Homo sapiens: one gene and its partners. The protein of the gene in region 4 purifies or fractionates together with the protein of the main gene of each other region. This does not show direct contact. Each region holds a gene or a part of one and is shown on either strand. Other genes may lie near its edges.

Region 1 (4,989 bases), on a different chromosome or scaffold from region 4:
CACGTTAGCCAGGATGTTCCCGCTCTCCTGATTTCATGAACCGCCCGCCTCGGCCTCTCCAAGTGTTGGGATTACAGGCGTGAGCCACCACACCTGGCCTAATTTTTTTATTTTTAGTAGAGACAGGGTTACACTATGATGCCCAGGTTGGTCTCAATCTCCTGGGCTCAAGTAATCCACCCATCTCAGCCTCCCAAAGTGTTGGGATTACAAGTACGAACCACTGCAGCTGGCCTTCTAAGCAGTTTTTACTAGGACCTTTCATCTTTTCGAGACAGACTCTTGCTCTGTCACCCACGCTGGAGTGGCACAATCTCGGCTCACTGCAACCTCTGCTTCCTGGGTTCAAGCAATTCTCCTGCCTCAGCCTCTGGAATAGCTGGGATTACAGGCATGTGCCACCACACCAGGCTAATTTTTATATTTTTAGTAGAGATGAGGTTTTGTCATGTTGGCCAGGCTGGTCTCCAACTCCTGGCCTCAAGTGATCCGCCCACCTTGGCCTCCCAAAGTGCTGGGATTATAGACGTGAGCCACTGCTCCAGGCCTTGGCCCTTTCATCTTTTAAGACAACGTAGCTCATTTTTAGGGACAGAGAGAAGACAGGAGAGACATACCCCTTAAGCTCTTGAAAAAGAGCAATATTCAACATAGCAGAAAACAGATTATTTTTATGGCTGGTAACTAACTGTTTATTATTATTTTGAGATGGAGTCTCGCTCTGTCGCCTAGGCTGGAGTGGAATGGCACGATCTTGGCTCACTGCAACCTCCACCTCCCAGGTTCAAGCGATTCTCCTGCCTCACCTTCCTGAGTGGCTGGCATTACAGGTGCGCACATCATCATGCCCGGCTAATTTTTGTATTTTTGTAGAGATGGGGTTTCACCATGTTGGTTAAGCTGGTCTTGAACTCCTGACCTTAGATGATCCACCTGCCTCGGCCTCCCAGTGTTGGGATTACAGGTGTGAGCCACTGCGCCCGGCCTAAGTTTTTACTCTAGATTGGCTTTCCTTTCTCGCCAAGAACTTTGATTTTAACATTTGCATGAAAATACGAGACTATGTTTAGTGTGTATTAAAAACATTCCCAAACAAAAGCCATGAATCCTCTCCTGTGACACAAATGCTCAACAGCTGACTCTATAGCGATGGCCTTTGTTTCAGACATGGTTACTAATACTTTAAGTGGTAGTAAAAATAGATTTTTTTAATTTTTAATTTTTATTTTTTTTTTGAGACAGTCATGCTCTTGTCACCCCAGCTGAAGTGCAATGGCATGATATCGGCTCATTGCAACCTCCACCTCCCGGGTTCAAGTGATTTCTGCCTCAGCCTCCCGAGTAGCTGGTATTACAGGAGCCCGCCAGCATGCCCAGCTAATTTTTGTATTTTCAGTAAAGACGAGGTTTCACCATGTTGGCCAGGCTGGTCTTGAACTCCTGACCTTGTGATCCACCCTCCTCGGCCTCCCAAAGTGCTGGGATTATAGGCGTGAGCCACCGCGCCCGGCCAAAAATAGATGTTATTTAATTCTTTTTTTTTTTTTTTTTTTTTTTTTTTTTTTGAGATGGAGTCTTGCTCTGTCACCAGGCTGGAGTGCAGTGGCGTGATCTCAGCTCACTGCAACCTCTGCCTCCTGGGGTCAAGCGATTCTCCTGCCTCAGCCACCCGAGTAGCTGAGATTACAGGCACGCACCACCATGCCCAGCTAATTTTTGTATTTTTAGTAGAGACAGGGTTTCACCTTGTTGGCTAGGATGGTCTTGATCTCTTGACCTCATGATTCGCCTGCCTCGGCCTCCCAAAGTGCTGGGATTACAGGCGTGAGCCACCGCGCCCGGCCCAATGTTATTTAATTCTTACTTTTATTGGGCCAAGACACAAAAGGGACGCTGAGACTCTGAAGAGAAGGAATCCCTGTGTGTGCTGAAAAACTATTCCCTTTGCTAGGCTACACCAATTTTGACATTTTATTGGGCTAAACAAAAGACAAGAAAAATGCACACAAGAAAAATGCTAGTAAAAACTTCTTTTACTAGCTTGTATAGTTGCATCTGCTTTCTTTTCTTCTTTTTTTTTTTTGAGACAGAGTTTCACTTTTGTTGCCCAGGCTGGAGTATAATGGCACGATCTTGGCTCACCGCAACCTCCGCCTCCCGGGTTCAAGAGATTCTCCTGCCTCAGCCTCCCCAGAAGCTAGGATTACAGGCATGCGCCACCACGCCCGGCTAATTTTGTATTTTTAGTAGAGAACGGGGTTTCTCCATGTTGGTCAGGCTGGTCTCGGATTCCCAACCTCAGATGATCCTCCCGCCTCGGCCTCCCAAAGTGCTGGGATTATAGGCGTGAACCACTGTGCCCGGCCGCATCTGCTTTCTAATGTAAGAGACTGATCTAATAGTCTAGAACCTGACAACTCTTATGGTATCATGGATTTTGTTTATATGCTTTATGAAGGTCACTGCACTGTGGCAACAGTCCAACACTACTGTACCAGCTCCCTCTGACACGTTCCCCTCCAAACTCACGCAGTGGCCAGCTCACTCAGGGCCTCCTGATAGCGTAGGTACTCATTCTGGCCAAAGACCTTAGGAAAGAGAAAGGAAGAGTGAGGATCTCTCAGTCTGAGGGATCTCTTTAGTGCCCCGAAGAAAAAACTGGCTTACCCCTGTCCCATAGCGGGCTGTTTCATAGCCATCCAAAAGGGTATCAATGAGTGCTTTGCGTACACCCTTGAAAGGCGTACTAGTGTTTCGCAGATCCAGCAGGTAGGAGCGGAAATTCTTGCCCATTAAGGAACGGGGATGCCGGCCTTCAGAATGAAATGGGATCTCTGTGGAGAAAACAGCACAATGATATCTCTTCTCATTCTTTAGTCTTTTTTTTTGAGATGGAGTCTCGCTCTGTCACCCGGGCTGGAGTGCAGTGGCAGTGATCTTGGCTCACTGCAACCTCCACCTCCTAGGTTTGAGCAATTCTCTAGTCTCAGCCTCCTGATTAGCTGGGATTACAGATGTGCACCACCATGCCAGGCTTATTTTTGTATTTTTAGTAGAGACAAAAATACAAAAGGGTTTCACCTTGTTGGCTAGGTTGGTCTTGAACTCCTGGCCTCCTGTGATCTGTCTGCCTCGCCCTCCCAAAGCGTTGGGATTACAGGCATGAGCCACTGCGCCTGCCCCATTCTTTAGTCTTTCTAGTTAATTCCCCAAACTTAGAAGTAGGTCTAATGAAGCTGGGCGCAGTGGCTCACGCCTGTAATTACAGCAATTTGGGAGGCCGGGGCAGGCAGATCACCTGAGGTCAGGAGTTTGAGACCAGCCTGGCCAACATGGTGAAAACCTGTCCCTACTAAAAATACAAAAATTAACCAGGCATGGTGGTAGGTACCTGTAATCCCAGCTACTCGGGAGGCTGAGGCAGGAGAACCGCTTGAACCCAGGAGGTGGAGGTTGTGGTGAGCCAAGATCGTGCTACTGCACTCCAGCCTGGGCAACAGAGCAAGACTCCGTCTCAAAAATAAAAAGAAATAGGTCTAATGAAATGAGCAAGTTGAGTTAGAGGGAGATTCTGATTGAGACCAAAGGTATAAAGCTGTGCCTGAGTGGTCATTTGGTGGTAACACCACAGTTGTAAGCTACATCTATGACACATGATAGTGTCATCACACATTTTACCATCCTGCTTACTCATCCATCCTAGGTTTAAGATATAAACTGTTTTCATAGAGATAAAGCATATATGACAAGTGTTGACAGAATGGAAAAAATTCAAGAACAATCTATCTTGGGCTTAGTGAAAAAGCAGGTGCCACCTGTCCTTTGTGGAAAAACAAGCAAATTACTATCATCTACTTCATGAAACTAAAGGTCTCAAGAGAAGAACTTTAAAAAACAAAACACCCAGACTCTTTGGAGAATAACCTGCTTATATCATTTCCTTCAGCAAAATCTCTAATCTAGTACTTTCAAAACTCTAGAATTTCCTACTAGCCAGGGATGTGCAGAAAGGACAAATCCTAACATACAAAGTGGGTTCATTACTCTGTTCCCTAGGTGGGCTTTCAGGATCCTAGAATGGACCCTGTCAGGTAGCCCTTACCAGAGGTACGAATGGCATCCAGAGCTTTCATCCTATACAGATAGTTGTAGCAACCTGTTGAGGAAAAGACTGGTGTTAGGCATAACCCTAAAAATATTCCCCAGGCTGGGCGTGGTGGCTCATGCCTGTAATCCCAACACTTTGGGAGGCTGAGGTGGGTGGATCACCTGAGGTCAGGAGTTTGAGACCAGCCTGACCAACATGGAGAAACCCCGTCTCTAGTAAAAACACAAAATTAGCCAGGCGTGGTGGCGCATGCCTGTAATCCCAGCTACTCAGGAGGCTGAGGTAGAAGAATTGCTTGAACAAGGGGGTGGAGGTTGCAGTGAGCTGAGACTGCACCATTGCACTCCAGCCTGGGCAACAAGAGTGAAACTCCATCTCAAAAAAGAAAAAAAAAATTCCCCAAACTCCAGCAAGCTAATAAATGGGCTCTGCATCTAACATATATCCAATAACAGGAATAACTAAGGCTTTGCCAGCAGCTTTTGACAACTCTGAGAGAAAAGGAATTCTGGACTTGTGGGACTCCTCACTGAAGCATTCCAAGAGCTTGCCACATACTTTGATTTCCCTGGGTTTCCAGTTGTAGTAGTCTAGCATCATCATCTGCAAGGAGCTGGGGCTCATACTTGATATCCTGAACCCTGGAGAGTCGAATATCAATCTCCTCTTTCAAGTCCTGTTCACATAAAAAAAGAATACACAATCATTTACCCTGCACTCTGCTTTCCACCAATGTGAAAATGGGGCAGAGTTAATGAATAACTAAGACAACAGAAATAGAGACCATGCTCATGTAGTTAATAAAATTACCAGATAAGAGGTAAGAATTTAGGAAAGAACGGGATTGGGTTTTCCAATAACCTCTCCAAGCTGCACATCTC
Region 2 (4,989 bases), on a different chromosome or scaffold from region 4:
CTCAGTACTGTGGGAGGCCAAGGCGGGTGAATTGCTTGAGCCCGGGAATTTAAGACCAGTCATGGGCAACATGGCGAGACCCTGTCTCTGCAAAATATTTTTTAAAAAATCAGCTGGATGTGGTGGCACACCTCTAGTCCCAGCTACTCTGGAGGCTGAGGTAGGAGGGTCGCTTGAGTCTGAGAGGTGGAGGTTGCAGTGAGCCGAGATCATGCCACTGCACTCCAGCCTGGGCAACAGAGCGAGACCCTATCTCAAAAAAAAAAAAATCTTGTGTTACAAATCCATTATGCGTTAGCAAACAGCTTTGTCCACTTTGACCCTCAAGGACCTAGGCTGATGGAAGCTTGCCCGTCTCGTGATGCATCTCAACATGTAGTTTCCCAGGGTCACATCTATAGGAAAGAGAGAGTTCAAAGGAAGATTGAAAGTGGCATAAGTCACTTTTTTCCCCAGCTCACTGGCCAAAATTAGTTGCATGACCCTAATGTAAGTGAATCCAAAATGTAGGAGGAGCACAAGGAATATTAATGAGCATTACTATTTCTTCAACACATGTTCTCTTTTTATTTTCTCCATGTTACCTATCAGGTTTTATTATATGATTTATATATTTTATATAACTTATACATATTTACATATCATATCATTTGCATGCTTTTGTGTTTACTGTTTAATGCCTCCTCCAGCAAGAATAGGAACTTATACTCCCAGAAAAGAATATAATTATTCTCCCAAGGAATATTTAGAATATAAAATTAGTAAAACTTGATTATTTGTTGAATACAACGGCTAAGGAAAGAATTAAGGATAATTCATGTTTCTCATTTGGATTACTTGGTTTTTGGTGTTTCCAAATGAAATAGGGAATATCAGAGGAGGAACAAGTGTGGGTGATATGATGATGAGTTTGGTTTGAGGTATAGTGGGTTTACTGCCATAGGGACCTCAAGGTGGAAATATGTGCAGAGTTGGATATATGGTTCTTAAACCCGGGGAAATGGGTAGGTCTTCAGCATGCCTAGTCTAGAAGTAGTTAAAAAAATAAGAAAGGGGGCCAGGTGCATTGGCTCACTGCACCTGTAATCTTAGCACTTTGCGAGGCCAAGGTGTGTGGATCGCTTGAACTCAGGAGTTTGAGATACCCATCTGTAGTCCTAGCTGCTCGGGAGGCTGAGGCAGGAGGATTGCTTGAGCCTGGGAGGTTGAGACTGCAGTGAGCCATGATTATGCTGCCGCACATCAGCCTTGGTGACAGAGTAAGACCCTGTCTCAAAAAAAAGGAAAAGGTAAGACTGTCAGTAACTACTAAGGACAGAATCCTTCTGTATACTAATGTTTAAAGAACAAAAAGAGGAAGATACGCTCTTGTGTGGGAAATGCAGCAAAAAATAAATGGTGAAAGGTGAACCAGGAGAGTATGAAGCTATGACTATCGAGGGTATTTAGAGTTTCAAGGAGAAAGTGAGGGACCATGTTAAATGTAGTAGATATGTAAAAAAAACAACAACAACCAAAAAAAAAAACAACTCTGCCTGTAGTTCCAGCTACTCAGGAGGCTAAGGCAGGAGGATCACTTGGGCCCAGGAGTTCAAGGTGTTAGTATGCTATTATCACACCTGGGAATAGCCTCAGTACTTCAGCCTGAGCAACATAGTGAGACCCTGTCTTTCTAAAAAAACAGAACAAAACAAACCACCAAAAACCAACAATTTCGTACTAAATATTTTCTACTCTTCTTACAAGCTTACTTAAGTCCCTTGCTCCTTTATTTCAACCCAACTTCCCTAACCACATTGGCTTCAATTTCATTGAGAAATTTGAAGTCATCAGGCATAAACAGCCCCAAATGTGCCCTCCCTTCTTCCCTTTACAAACTTACCACCATGCCCATCCATCCTTTCCTCTTTCCCTCCAATCTCAGGACATTCACAGCCAACTTTTCCACTAGTGCCATTGATACCAAGAATTGTCTGCACTTTCTGTTTATGCTTTTTCCCTTTTATGATTTGTGCTCCTAGTATTCCACGGAAATTTTTCTCAGTAAGGGGACCATTTGAAATTTTAGTCAATGGGGTGGAAGTGAAAAACTAAGTACAAAGTGTTGAATACTGAATGCAAGGTAGGGGAATAGCAATATAAATTGGAGATAGCAGTCACTGATGAAGTGAGAGGGAGATAATGCCAATCCTCCTCCCCAGACAACTGAAGACATTTACATGGACCAGATTCAGGTACTATTCCAGAGGCCCTTTCATTTTGGTGGCCATATTAAAAGTATGTCTCTTACCTGTCCTCCTCCTCCTATACCATGCCAGTGATTGAATCTTCATTGTAGAAGCAGAAGTGAGCCAGTTCCCACAATAAAGAATTTAGACACATGAGATTTCATTCATTTGTTCATTTGTGGAAAAGTATTTCTTGAATGTCTGCCATGTGCCATACTCAGGGTTAGGTGCTGGAAATACAATGGGGAGTAAAAACAAATTTCTTGTTTTAGTGGACTTTATAGAATAGTGATTTGATTTGTCTTTTATTTGTTTGTTTATATCTAACTTAAATTTGTTTAACTAATTTTACTTTTTTTCCCCTTTAGTACCCTCTTATATATGGACTGATTCTTATTCCCTGCTGGTGTTCTCTAGTTTGCCTAAGTAGAATTTACATGGGAATGCACTCTATTCTGGTAAGGAAAATGTTGTCTTCTTAATACTTTATTTTTTATGACATTGACAGGAAATTTTATAATTTTTAATCATTTGCAAACTTACCTGAAGCCTAAATGAGAAAATATTGTAAGTCGTCTAACTTTGTTTTGCGAAAATATCAACATGATGGTTTATGAAATATTAATGTAGTAGTCACATATTTCATAGAAACAGTTTCCAGCAATCACAATAGCCAGGTATTATAATCAAGATAACATTTCTTCCTCCTTCCAGTCTCCCTTTTATTTTCCTTTGCAGTCTTTTCTGTGTCTCTCTTATCACTGAGTCAAAACCAGCAATGTGGCTACAGAAACCAAGGAGAGCTCCTAAGTATTGTTGAAGAACTAGTGACTAGAAACTATGTGAACTTAAACTTTCCAGGGGCCATTTGTGTTTACATATTAAACTCTACTTTTCTTTTCTTTCCCATCAGTATGTTAGGACTCACAGTGGACATTGTGTTTTGAGAATGCAATTCGGTTCCCAAAGCAGCAGCACAGGGACCCTGTACTATTTGCAGCCACACCCATTCACTTTCCCTCCTCGCTATCCCTATTGACACCCCCTTAGCTCTGGCCTGCAACATATCTTGACCAGATTACTGTGATAGCATCTTAATTAGTAGCCAACTTCCAGTTTGACACTGCTCCACTAGCATTCAGCTGTTTCGTAGACTTTCCAAAACACAAATACGATGCTATACTGAATTATTAGGTTTCCTCCAATGCAAAGGGTTTCTTACCTCCATAACTTTACAAATGCTGTAACATTTACTTGGAATGCCCCTTTCACTTTCTTTACCTTAACTATCCCATTCATTCTTCAAGACTCACTATAGATATTCTTAACCCCTCAAAGCCTTATTACCTTCCCCATCTTCTCTTTCTCAAGACTTGTGAGGTGACCCTTCCCCACTTATCCTAAATTGCAATTGCTTTTTTCCTTATCTGTCAAGTATACTAGACTCCAAGTTCCTTGAGAACAGCAACTGTGTGTTTTAACTCTACCTTTAGTATCCAACATGGTGTCTCATGAGGCATCTATGAATGAATTATGTATTATCATGGAGATAAAGGATCACAAAAAAAGGTGGAAGAATTCATGGAATTCTAGTTTCTAATGGGTCATGTCAGTTTTTTTCTTGTCCTTAACATGTTACCATTTTTAGAATTTTTTTTCTCATATTATTTCATTCTCTTATTTCTTAGTTATAGAAATGTTGGTTTCTATCTCAAATTTCTTGCTTCCAGCACCTGCTCCTTCACAGATAAATTTCCAGAAGTCCCAAACACTATTTTATTTTGTTGGGAGGCAGTGTGTGCTGTAATTTTGGGGTTGGTCATTGTTTCTAGGTTTTTTTAAATTTTAATTTTAGATTCAAGGGGTACATAAGCAGATTTGTTTGCAAAGGTATATTGTGTGATGCCAAGATTTGGACGTCTATTGATCCTGTGACCCAGATGGTGAACATAGTACCCAACAGGAAGTTTTGCAGCCCTTTCCTCCCCCCGCTCTCCCTCTCTCCTTTTGAAGTCCCTACCAAACACTTTTTTTTCTTTTTGAGACAGAGTCTTGCTCTGTTGTCCAAGCTGGAGGGCAGTGGCACAATCTCGGCTCACTGCAGCTTCTGCCTCCCAGGTTCAAGCAATTCTTGTGCCTCAACCTCCTGAGTAGCTGGGATTACAGACATGTACCATCACACCCGGCTAATTTTTGTATTTTTAGTAGAGACAGGGTTTCACCATGTTGGCCAGGCTGGTCTCAGACTCCTGACCTCAGGTAATCCACCTGCCTTGGCCTCCCAAAGTGCTGGGATTACAGATGTGAGCCACTGCGCCCAGCCCTAAACACTATTTTAATAAACAAATTATTTGTGTTTGACTTTTTATAATTATTTGTATTTAATATGAATTGTGAATTTACATACACTTCTTTCTGACTAATCTCTCCTAATTTTGTAATCAGATTAAGTATCATATTTTTATGCAAAATCAAATACTTGTTACAAGAAAATGTTTTCTATCTTCTGTGTCTTTTTAGAGTTATTCTGTTCCACCCCTAAAAGTTAGCATCACTACTTCTGAAAAAACTACCAAATGGTTATGCATCTTTAGTGATAAAAAGTGAATTCCTGGTATTTCTTGGAGAAAAAGATATTAGATAATATCCCTTGACTCATTATCATCATACAAGGAAGAAAAAGAATCTATGTGATCACATTGAATATATAATCTCAAAGATACTGGTTTTGTTTGCTTGCTTGTTTGTTTTTGAGATGGAG
Region 3 (4,989 bases), on a different chromosome or scaffold from region 4:
TAAAAGTTTAAGAAATACTTATTTGAAAAACATTAATTGGTGAAATTCCACCATTAATAAAAGAAAACTTTTTTTTTGGCTTGGAAAAATTGCCTTATTATTTACTTTTTATTCAGTATCTTAGTTCACCTCACAGATCACTGATGTTATATAGATGCAAGAATTAGGAATTATTCATGTTAATAATTGGTTGAGTTTATGAAATTGATTCTTTGTGCTTTGCATGTTTCCAACATTGATTTGCAACGATTAGCACTTTCTTATGTTACTCAGTTCTGTTTTCTTATAACTAGCTCCCCTTCTTTTGGACATAAGAAACCAATTTAGAACATTTTAGAAAATGTAAATAAATATGTAGCTTTGCATGTAATGAAAGCCGTTTTGGGATCACGTTAAAATAATGATGTTCTAAGTCACTAAACGTTCACCCCAACTGAACTTTTGTAGAAGAAAGAGTTGAAGGCAGGTGGGAAGCAGAAAGAAAGGGGCTGCTAGAAAAATCAGAAATCGGAAGGAAGATCTTTGTCACTGTTATAATTCACTGTCTCATATCTGTATTGCAATTCATGTTGAACCTAGTTCTGGGAGGAACAGAGTCAGAGTCTGAATCGCAGTCTAAATCCCTAATAAAATTTAAACTCATTTAGATCACTGATTTCCTATTCATTGTACAGAAGAATGAAGTGGGGTTTAGACCCTAAATGCTTCAGTGTGAGCTGTGAAGCCCCACAGCTTGGCTGGATCAATCTGGACTTCGGGCAGATGCGCACTAAGGGCTGCTTACCTAGAGGAGCCACGTTTCTCCTGGTAAGATATTATTGAAAAGATGTTGCCTATATTCATGGATTTTTGTATTTGAAAAATTTGCTCCAATTGGTAGTTCTCTTTCTTGTATTCATTAAAAATTATTGATGTATATCTCTTTTCTACACACGCACATAAACTCTTACATGTGTTTTATAATCAAGAATTTAATAATCTTTGAAGATATTTTTACTGCATCCTCAATTCACTGCACTAATTCATGAGATTATAAACTGCAAAAAGGAGGAAATACCCCCATCTTGTGGTAACTAAAGAAAAGTCCTTGATGCTCAAAGACTTCAAAAATAAAACTCCTAAATAGTAACTGATAGCACATTACCTCTGTTTTTCTGATAAAAAATTCTCAAAGAATAATTTCATCCTGCCTGTATATTACAATCAGAACAATTAAAATAATATGCCTCAGTTATTAGTAAAGTAACATTTATGTTTTTGGATCAATGAAGCTAAGCCAGCACTAAGAATTTTGTTACTATTTCTCTACTACATTTCAGGGAGTTATTTCTTCATCATTATACATACCGCAATAATGATTCCATTAGGTCCATTTATATTATCAACCCAACCCTAAAAGAAAGAAGATTTCTATTGGTTACACATTTCAGAAAATTGTTTTATCTTTGGAACATCTGCAGTCTAATCTTAATAAATTTCAAACAAGAGCACTGAGATCCCAGCCAATAGAACTATCTAATTCAGTATTATTAAGATCTCAAAAGATAATGGCAAAGCATTGGCCATTTTCTGTACTTTATTTGACTGTGCAAAAATTAGAATTTTGCCAGGATTGTTTTTCTTAGCAGGAATCATGAATGGTTTTGTGGTGTTTTATGACCTCTTATGGACTAAATTGGACCTTGTCCTTATATCATGATCTGCTAAGCAATTCACCAACCATACTTCTCCACCTTAGTCCTGATTTCAGCCTCCTTAGGAGAACATTGAAAACATGATTTGTGTTAATGGCCCATTTCTTAACATTTTTTACCAGCTATAGAGTCCATGCCAGATATATATACATATATATATATATGTGTGTGTGTGTGTGTGTGTGTGTGTGTGTCTGTGTGTCTGTGTGTATATTGACTTACTTAAAGATGTTACAGAGATTATATTTAAGAGCAGCTAGAGGGAAATGTGTTTTTAAGTTTGTTTCTTAAGACCTAAGCCATTCAGCTGACCTTATTATGTCTCTTTACGTTACAGTATAAAAGTCAAATGTGTGAGTATAACAGGAGAGGAGAGAGAAGAGAGGAGAAGATGAAGGGATTAATATTTGTTGAGCCTTTTAGTAGGGACCACTCCTCATACATTGTCTCATCAAATCAACTCTCCATAGTATCTGTCCTGTTTTATGGAAGGGACAACTCAAAAATGTTGCATTACCAGTAAGTAGTGGAGCTGGAATTTATCTACCCCAAAGCTTCACAGACTTGCTTTCAAGAAGATGGTATAATTCAAAGTACTTTCAAAAGGTCATGACAGTATACTGAGGTTTAAAAAAAATTAGTATTCCTAAACTGAGATCCTTCTGTGAGCTTTGAAACTCTTGTTTACCCTGGCAGTTGTAATACTACCAATTTGGCCATCAAGGACATTCTGGTATGCTTAAACTATAGTAGGAAAGCCAAGATATGAAACCATCACCCATGTGAATTTTGAGACTAGAGTAGTTAGAAGCTAATTTAAGCTCTCCGTCCAACTCTAGGGCAGTCAAGATAACTGCCAGAGGAGCCACATGCTGGGTAAATCCTGAACCCAAAGTGGAATTTTGCCCTAGTATAATGGGTTCATATTCGATTGGCTGCACTTAGCTATAAATCCTGAGGAGGAGAAGAAGAAAGACATCAGAAAGTAATTGGACTAGAAGAACCTTAGTTTGGAAGCAAAACACAGAATCCAGGTAAGTGGGCTTACTGGGAAAGGCTCCTGCCAAGTTGCTCCCACAATGGAGGGCCTTATGATGGCAATGTTCAGGTTCCTGCTCTCTTGCTGCACCACCATTTCTCCCAAGGCCTTGGTGTAGGTATAAATATTGGGCCAATCTCTGATCAGCTTGGGTGTAATCTCGTCAATAATAGCATCGTCTAACCACCTAAAAGGTAGAGTAAAGAGAATTCTAGTAACATATGTTAGACAATAAACCAAAAGGAAAATGTGAGACACAATCAAACAAAACTTCCACCTTTTAGCCTCGGTTCTGGAATTCAGAACAGTCACATGATACCAAGTTTGAGTGTGTACCTGCTCAAAGCATGCATGAGCTTTTTGCTCTTCACTGCTAAGCCCAATCTTATCCTATGCCCTCCCATCCAAACAGATAGGTAGGTAGGTAGGTAGGTAGGCAGGCAGGTAGGTAGATAGACCGATAGAATCAATAGCAATACTACTTTATTACGAATGATAGCATAGGACTATTAGTACTACTTTATTAGTATTACTTTAGCACTACTGCTACTTTATCAGTACTGATTACTACTTTATTGTAGTAGTACTAAATTAGAACTTTAGTACTATATTAGAGATTATTATTACTTTACTTCCTCTCTAGCAAGCTCATAAGTACACTCATTGAACACATATTTGAGTCCCAGTCATTCTCCCAGTAGTGTGCTGCATGCTGTGTTCAGGGAGTTAGAGGCTGTCATCCAAGGTGCTTCAGTGGCAGCCCTACTCAGTGTTGTCCGATAAAAATCCAGTGCAGTAATCCTGAAGCCTTTAGCTTTAAATTTTAAAAATTCCACTCAATGCAAATCAAATCAAAGTGACTACTTTTGGCACTTACAGTCTGTTTTAGCAAACCTATGTAATGCATTTTGAAGGTCTGTTTAGAGTCTATGCTAATAACTTGAAAATTATCTCCAGAGATTTCCAGTGAATTCTGAAGTCTGTCAAGTGGGGTGATTATAGTGCTCTGAAATAGCTTCAAAATCACGATTATTGACTACTCCTACTTACAAGATAATGTATCATGAATAACCAAGTTACCATAGCATCAGCCTAATCTTTCTTAAAAATATGTCAGAACCACTTGATAACCCCAAAGTCTATCTACACCTCTCTAAGAAAGCAACAAAAGTATTGTCAATTATATATTTAACATTCTTCTAGCTGACAGATCTATGTGGTTAAATCATTGATATAACATAGCTTTTTAAAAATTAAGCTGCCGAAATATGCTAGTGTGATTTTTCTAATCAATGTGGTATATTTATTTCTATTTTATAGAACAGAACAGAACTATACTATTTTGATTGTAGAAAATCTTCACTGTTACCACTTTGCTGACATGACAAATTTTTGAGCAGCTAAGATGTGCATGATGTTAAGACTTATTCAGAATCACAACTTTCAATTTTAATGCCTCATTTGATCCTGAGGTAGAACATGGGCATCGACTATAATGTTTCCACTTTTCTTGCTTTGCTTCTATTAGTGCTGAGTGTGTTCTGGATACTCAAATGTCTTTTTATTTGAATTGAATAGAGAAAGATTGAGGGGTTCTAGAATTAAAAACAACTTCAACTACATAGAAATATCTAGGATATTTTAATTATATGGTCACCTGGGGGCTGGGAAAGAATATAGGATGATGCAGACACCTCTCCATCTTAACAGTCCTACCACTATCTCATTTCATTTGGTGGGTCAACAGTGGATTGACTGACCTGAGACCATTTTCTCTCACCTGCAAAAATATATAGTTTATGAAAACCAGGTCTTGAGGGAATAAAGCTTAATTTCAATAAAGCTGTAAAAAAAAAAAAACCTAGGAAACATCAGAGCCCAATAATGTGCAGGGATTGTATGTCACATGGCTAGTACCAGTTGCTGTCATTAATGTTGGGGTACATGGAAAGGATAATATTTGGGGGGATAGGGGCCTTATAAAGCTTGGTGAGTTTGCTTGTCTTAGAAAATTTTGGTTTCGTAGATTTCTGACAGCACGCATGCAAGAAATTTTAATATTCTATAGATGACTTGCCTCTGCTACTCTCAGCTACACCTGTATTCCACTGTTTTATCTTTTCATTCCAATTGTACTTGTGAAAATGGCAATAATTATACTGATTCTAAATTCTCATAAGAGTAAACAGGAATATAAATTACCTAGTTCCAATTGTACTTGTGAAAATGGCAATAATTATACTCATTCTAAATTAT
Region 4 (4,989 bases):
GTGCTAACACAGAACTGGCTCTTCAAATACACTTGAGATTTTCCTTAATCAGGTGGAGAGAAGCATATGACCAATCATGTTTTCTTTCCAGAAGGAAACTCAGGTATTTGCCATAATAATCTCTTCCAGATTGCTCTATTTTTTTTGCTTTTTTTCCCCTTAACTGGCTTTCCTTTTTATTTTGTTTTTAGCTGTTCACTTTTATATCATGTTTAACTATATAGCTTGTGGATCTGCCATTCACTAGCTGAGTAAACCTGGAGGGGTTATTTAACATCTAAAGTTCCACTTTCTTCATCTGTCAAATGAGAATTGTTGTAGACACCAGTGATACTATCTTTTCAGCATCCCTTTTTGATAACCACTCCTCTACTCCATCCACATTCCCTTGATACCATTAAAGGGGCCCAGCCCTCTAAGCACTTAGATTAGTCTAGAAGTGATCATCTAATTCAAGCTGAACCAGGAAGACACTTGCCAGAGATTTTGGATTTAGGACTGAAAGAGTCAGGTCAATTTCCTTCTAGTAGCTGAAATTATAAGACAAACCTCAGGAACTGCTAGTGGCTATGTATCCCACTTATGGAAAAGATAGCCTACAGTGAAAGAAAAGAATGATACTAAGAGACAGGAAAGAGAAGGAGGGAGAGTCCTAGGGGTTCTAATGTTTCCTAGGTTCTTGTTTTTCCTGTAGCTTGGCTGTTCTATTAGTCATCTAGTATCTTTCCAGTAAGTTGTCCTTTGTGCATATATAATTTTGTTTGATTTCTATCACTTGAAACCAATATAGTTCTAATACATAAGAAATAATCCCTACACTGAGTAGTTGTTATAAAAAGTAAATGAGATCAAATAATTAAGTGCTAAGCATATTACCTGGTATATGATACGTGCTCAAGAAATTGTGCCTATTAATATTATTTAGAAGATGTGGATATAAATATAAATTATAAGTCAGACAATTAATAAAAACAATTTTAATAATTTGCAAATCTTCTTGCAATTTCAAAATCAATCAAAGGATTATTTGATTCTGGATCTTCAAAGAATTGTAAAATAAATGCTCTGAATAAATTTTGCTATATAATATTGTATAAATGCAATTGAGAGACTCTCATATAGTAAATAATCTTAGAGAATAATGAAGTCCAGAACAGTGATCCACAATTTCTTTCTTAACTCACTTGTTTAGAGTAAACATATACAGGGAAGGTGGAAAAACAATGCAGACTTACATTCCAGTTACCCCACATATATAGGAATAAGTCTGACATACATAAATGTACAAAAACTGACTTAGCTGCATAAACAGTCATGTTTACACAGTATAAAGAATGCAGTATAATGAAGGAAAAATGGAATTAACATATACCTGTAGAGATACCACACTGACATTATCAAAATGGATATGTCCATTAGCTTCTGTGACAGCAGGATTTGCATAGCATGTCACACCATTGATGGCAGGTAATGCTTTAGGTTGATGAGTTTTTTCTTGAGGACCAAAGTTATCATTTCCAAAGTGGGTATGACCATTCTATATGGGAACAAAAACCAAAGAGATTATAAGAAGAAAAAAGATGATTCATACAGACAAGGAAATAGAGTTTACTGCTTTTTATTTATAAGAGGAAAATTGTATGTCTATTCTATGTGTAAAGAAGTATTTTTAGATATATAAAATTTCTCTTTTTTACATGTATTTTCATTTATTAGATTCTGCTGTTACTGTTTGTTCGTGTTAGAACACGTATACACTCTTATTTTGATGAATATGAATAGAATATGAATTATGCACATCTGTTATTCAATATTAAATTGCTGATACTTGAAAAAAAACAAAAATAACCTCCAAATTTTACAACATGAATCAAGTATTTATCTTATACTTGTCAATATATTGACTCTTTGTTCTCCTTAAACTCACAAGCCTAATAACTGGACCATTCTCATAATTCTAAAAATAAAATTTCTGTCTTTATTTGCCTATATAAAGTAGCTTTAGGGGGTAAAATATTGGATGTTTTAAATAAAGTCCATTTACCTGACCATATGTCTTTAATAACATCTTTAGCATTCTTTCAAAAAAGAAAAGTAGGTAAAATCCACCAAACACAGCAACTGCCTTCTCAACATAACTGTCGACTTTGGGATCAAATCCAAATGCCTAAGGGAGAAAAAAGGGCAATTCAAGTAAAACCAAGAAATTTAACTTGATTTCTGGAAAATAATACCAGTATGCAATTCTCACCAATGTTCTAAGTCTCTCTTCACATCCAAGTAATATTGGAAACTTAGCTGCCAAAAATCACAAAACAAAAACTTTGAAATTTGAATGACAAAACTGTATGAGATGGCACAAAAACCTTACAACTAGAAGTCTCATTAAATAAAGCCACCAGAGAATCTTACAGTTTCCCACCTATAACACCTACAGCAATATTTGCCTTGAAAGAGTAAACTTTTAGCAGTAAAGCAGCAGCTCTGATTCTCATCTTTAGAATACGATATTAGGTCTAGATAATGAAGATAAATGAGATATTGATTACCTACTGTCTCTAAAAGTAATATATTAGTCCATGATATCCAGAATCAAACTTTTAAAACAAATATGGCAGGCCACTTGGATTACTGTTTTCCCAAGAGAAATCCTCTTATACCTACAGAACTGTGATAAATCCTAAAAAGGTAAATAAATCAAGGCCTAGGCCCAAGAATAAAAGCAAAAAGAAGATTTAAAATTGCCACCACTCTCTCTCTCTCTTTCACACACACACAGCAATAAGAATGGAATAATTCTTTCTTTAAAGGACAAAGAACTGGAGTTAGAGTTTGAAGTTATAAAGAGTCAAGATGTTCCTAACAGACAAGACACATAAACTTCAAATAAATAGAATCAGAGGAGAGACTAATGGGTGAAAAGCCACAACTTTACACCATTCCACACATTGTAAATCTCCCCTCTGAAGCAGAATAGAAGATGTCTGGGTTCTTGTCCTATGTTTGCCTCTGGGGAGACATCATGGCCGCATCCTCATTTGAATAACTTCTTTGTGCCTGTTTATACAATGCAAAATGGCTATATAAATATAAATGTTCCATTTACCTAACATTGAGGTTATGAAAATAAAGTGAAATAAGAAAAGGAAAATCATTTTGCTACAAAAAACTCTATGAAAATTTGAGAGATTATTACAAAGACAGATTCTTTATATTGTTAAACTTCAAGAAAATAGAAAACCTTAACATCATCAATGTAGAGTCTTTAGTCCACATACAGTATTAGTTTGTTTAATTTACTTTGACCCATAAAGCAGATGAGATAATAAATACATATATTATATCATATTAAATGTATTATGTATATAATACTCTTTTAAATCAGAAAATCTGTATTGTCATCCTAGCTTTGTTACTAGCTGATTGTAAGGCTATAATCAAATTATTTAACCACCCTAAATTTTAATATTTTTTATCTCTACAATTGAGGCTGTGAAATAGATATTATCTTAGGTCCTAGATCAAATAATGATAATAAATCTATAACTCTAAAAAGTTATATACCCACTTTCAATGTATAGCTTGAAAAATTAAAGGAAGCTTTAGTTATAATTTTCTAAAAATTACGAGATAAGGGTGGTACTCCCTGAAATACTATTAATATTTTCTCTCTGTATGGGGTTTGTCTCTCCCTGTGTGTGTGCATTGTGGGTGGCAGATACAGTCCATGTATACATATATTTCTCTAGTTCCCCTTTGTGGATCCCTTCTATGAAAGTCTCTTTCTCCTTTCCTTCCTCTTCAACATTGCCTCTCTTTTCCTTTCATTTATTTCCCTTCCTCCATTTCTCTTCCTTATATGGGCACAACACAGATTTGAAATAAATTGAATAGTGTGCACTATAGTCAAGATAGATCAATAACACATTTTATCAAAGAAAAAAAATAAGTTGCTATTTATTTATTAGTCCTCAATTGATATTTTTTCCACAGTTGGAAAAAATGAAAAGGTTTGTCAACCATGCTCTCATTTACTCTCTAGTCACTTATAACTGTAGTAAATATATGAGGGAATTTAGTGGTATATGTTAAATACATTATAAATTTACATTTGACATTTGCAGTACAGTTGACATTGCATGCTCTTTAGAAAAATAAATAAATAAATAAATAATGAAACAGTGTGTGGAAAAATTAAATTTGCCAAGTGCAAGGCAGAATAAAGTTTTAAGGCCTTCTGAGGTGTCCCAGAGCTGTCTGAGCACGTCCTAGTGGCTGGCCTCCTAGAATATTAATTTTGTCTCTGATAGTGATATCCACTGCAGCTTGGGACAAGCCTTTACAATTGCTGTGATTCAGCTTTCTCTTATCCAAGACACTATAAACTAGACCATAAAACGCTGTAAGAATTATGGAGGCTAAAAACATACAAAGTGCTAAAACGTTCAAAAGAAACAATTATTCACAGAAACAAATAGCCAACATCCTTACCTCTGGAATAAGTTGGAAAATTGCATTTGAAAAAAGAGTCCCAATAGCCAGCCCCACAAAAAAGGTCAAAATCTTTGGGAAATAAGATTTCTTTATCAGTGGAGTCAAAATCAATCCGAGGAGAGATGCCAGATTAATAATCGTCACTGACAGGAATCCATATCCCCAAACTGTGGGTCAGAGGGAAAAGAGAGTAGAAATTAATCAGAGCAAGGAACCAAATGATGTTTTCCTGTACATTAAGCTTAAAAGTGTCTTTAAAAGCTTAAGACACATATCTTCTTTAAAAGAACAAAATCTACTCAATGAAAAGTATATAGAAAACTGAGAATACAAATATGGCATAGCAAGCATTAATAGTAATACTGTTTATGTTTTAATCAGCCCTAAATCATCATTATGGGATTAATGAGTTTTACAGCTTGCAGGGAAATTGGAGAACATCTAGAACAGCGAACAGCGACAAACAATCTGAGATCCACAGGCTCCAAGCCACCT

Evidence for each region. Proteins that work in one complex are often made in the same cells at the same time.
Region 1: the proteins of SLC39A8 (region 4) and LTAP1 purify together in Homo sapiens (affinity purification with mass spectrometry; 3 studies listed by BioGRID and IntAct, with this or other methods). This does not show direct contact.
Region 2: the proteins of SLC39A8 (region 4) and SGPP1 purify together in Homo sapiens (affinity purification with mass spectrometry; 2 studies listed by BioGRID and IntAct, with this or other methods). This does not show direct contact.
Region 3: the proteins of SLC39A8 (region 4) and FAR2 purify together in Homo sapiens (affinity purification with mass spectrometry; one large-scale study listed by BioGRID and IntAct). This does not show direct contact.

Annotation. Positions count from the first base shown.
Region 1 is NC_000001.11:154,209,791-154,214,779, forward strand, and holds part of LTAP1 (protein C1orf43), read right to left. Parts: intron 4,785-4,989; coding exon 4,667-4,784; intron 4,157-4,666; coding exon 4,103-4,156; intron 2,835-4,102; coding exon 2,668-2,834; intron 2,589-2,667; coding exon 2,530-2,588; coding exon of another isoform or gene 2,526-2,529; exon of another isoform or gene 1,671-2,525; intron 1-1,670. UniProt on the Homo sapiens protein: General regulator of phagocytosis. Required to uptake Gram negative bacterium by macrophages.
Region 2 is NC_000014.9:63,696,266-63,701,254, reverse strand, and holds part of SGPP1 (sphingosine-1-phosphate phosphatase 1), read left to right. Parts: intron 1-543; exon of another isoform or gene 544-2,458; intron 2,459-2,596; coding exon 2,597-2,686; intron 2,687-4,989.
Region 3 is NC_000012.12:29,305,589-29,310,577, reverse strand, and holds part of FAR2 (fatty acyl-CoA reductase 2), read right to left. Parts: intron 2,921-4,989; coding exon 2,743-2,920; intron 2,729-2,742; exon of another isoform or gene 2,534-2,728; intron 1,393-2,533; coding exon 1,348-1,392; intron 808-1,347; exon of another isoform or gene 675-807; intron 1-674. UniProt on the Homo sapiens protein: Catalyzes the reduction of saturated but not unsaturated C16 or C18 fatty acyl-CoA to fatty alcohols (FAls). A lower activity can be observed with shorter fatty acyl-CoA substrates.
Region 4 is NC_000004.12:102,302,945-102,307,933, forward strand, and holds part of SLC39A8 (metal cation symporter ZIP8 isoform a precursor), read right to left. Parts: intron 4,662-4,989; coding exon 4,492-4,661; intron 3,058-4,491; exon of another isoform or gene 2,252-3,057; intron 2,168-2,251; coding exon 2,045-2,167; intron 1,538-2,044; coding exon 1,373-1,537; intron 1-1,372. UniProt on the Homo sapiens protein: Electroneutral divalent metal cation:bicarbonate symporter of the plasma membrane mediating the cellular uptake of zinc and manganese, two divalent metal cations important for development, tissue homeostasis and immunity.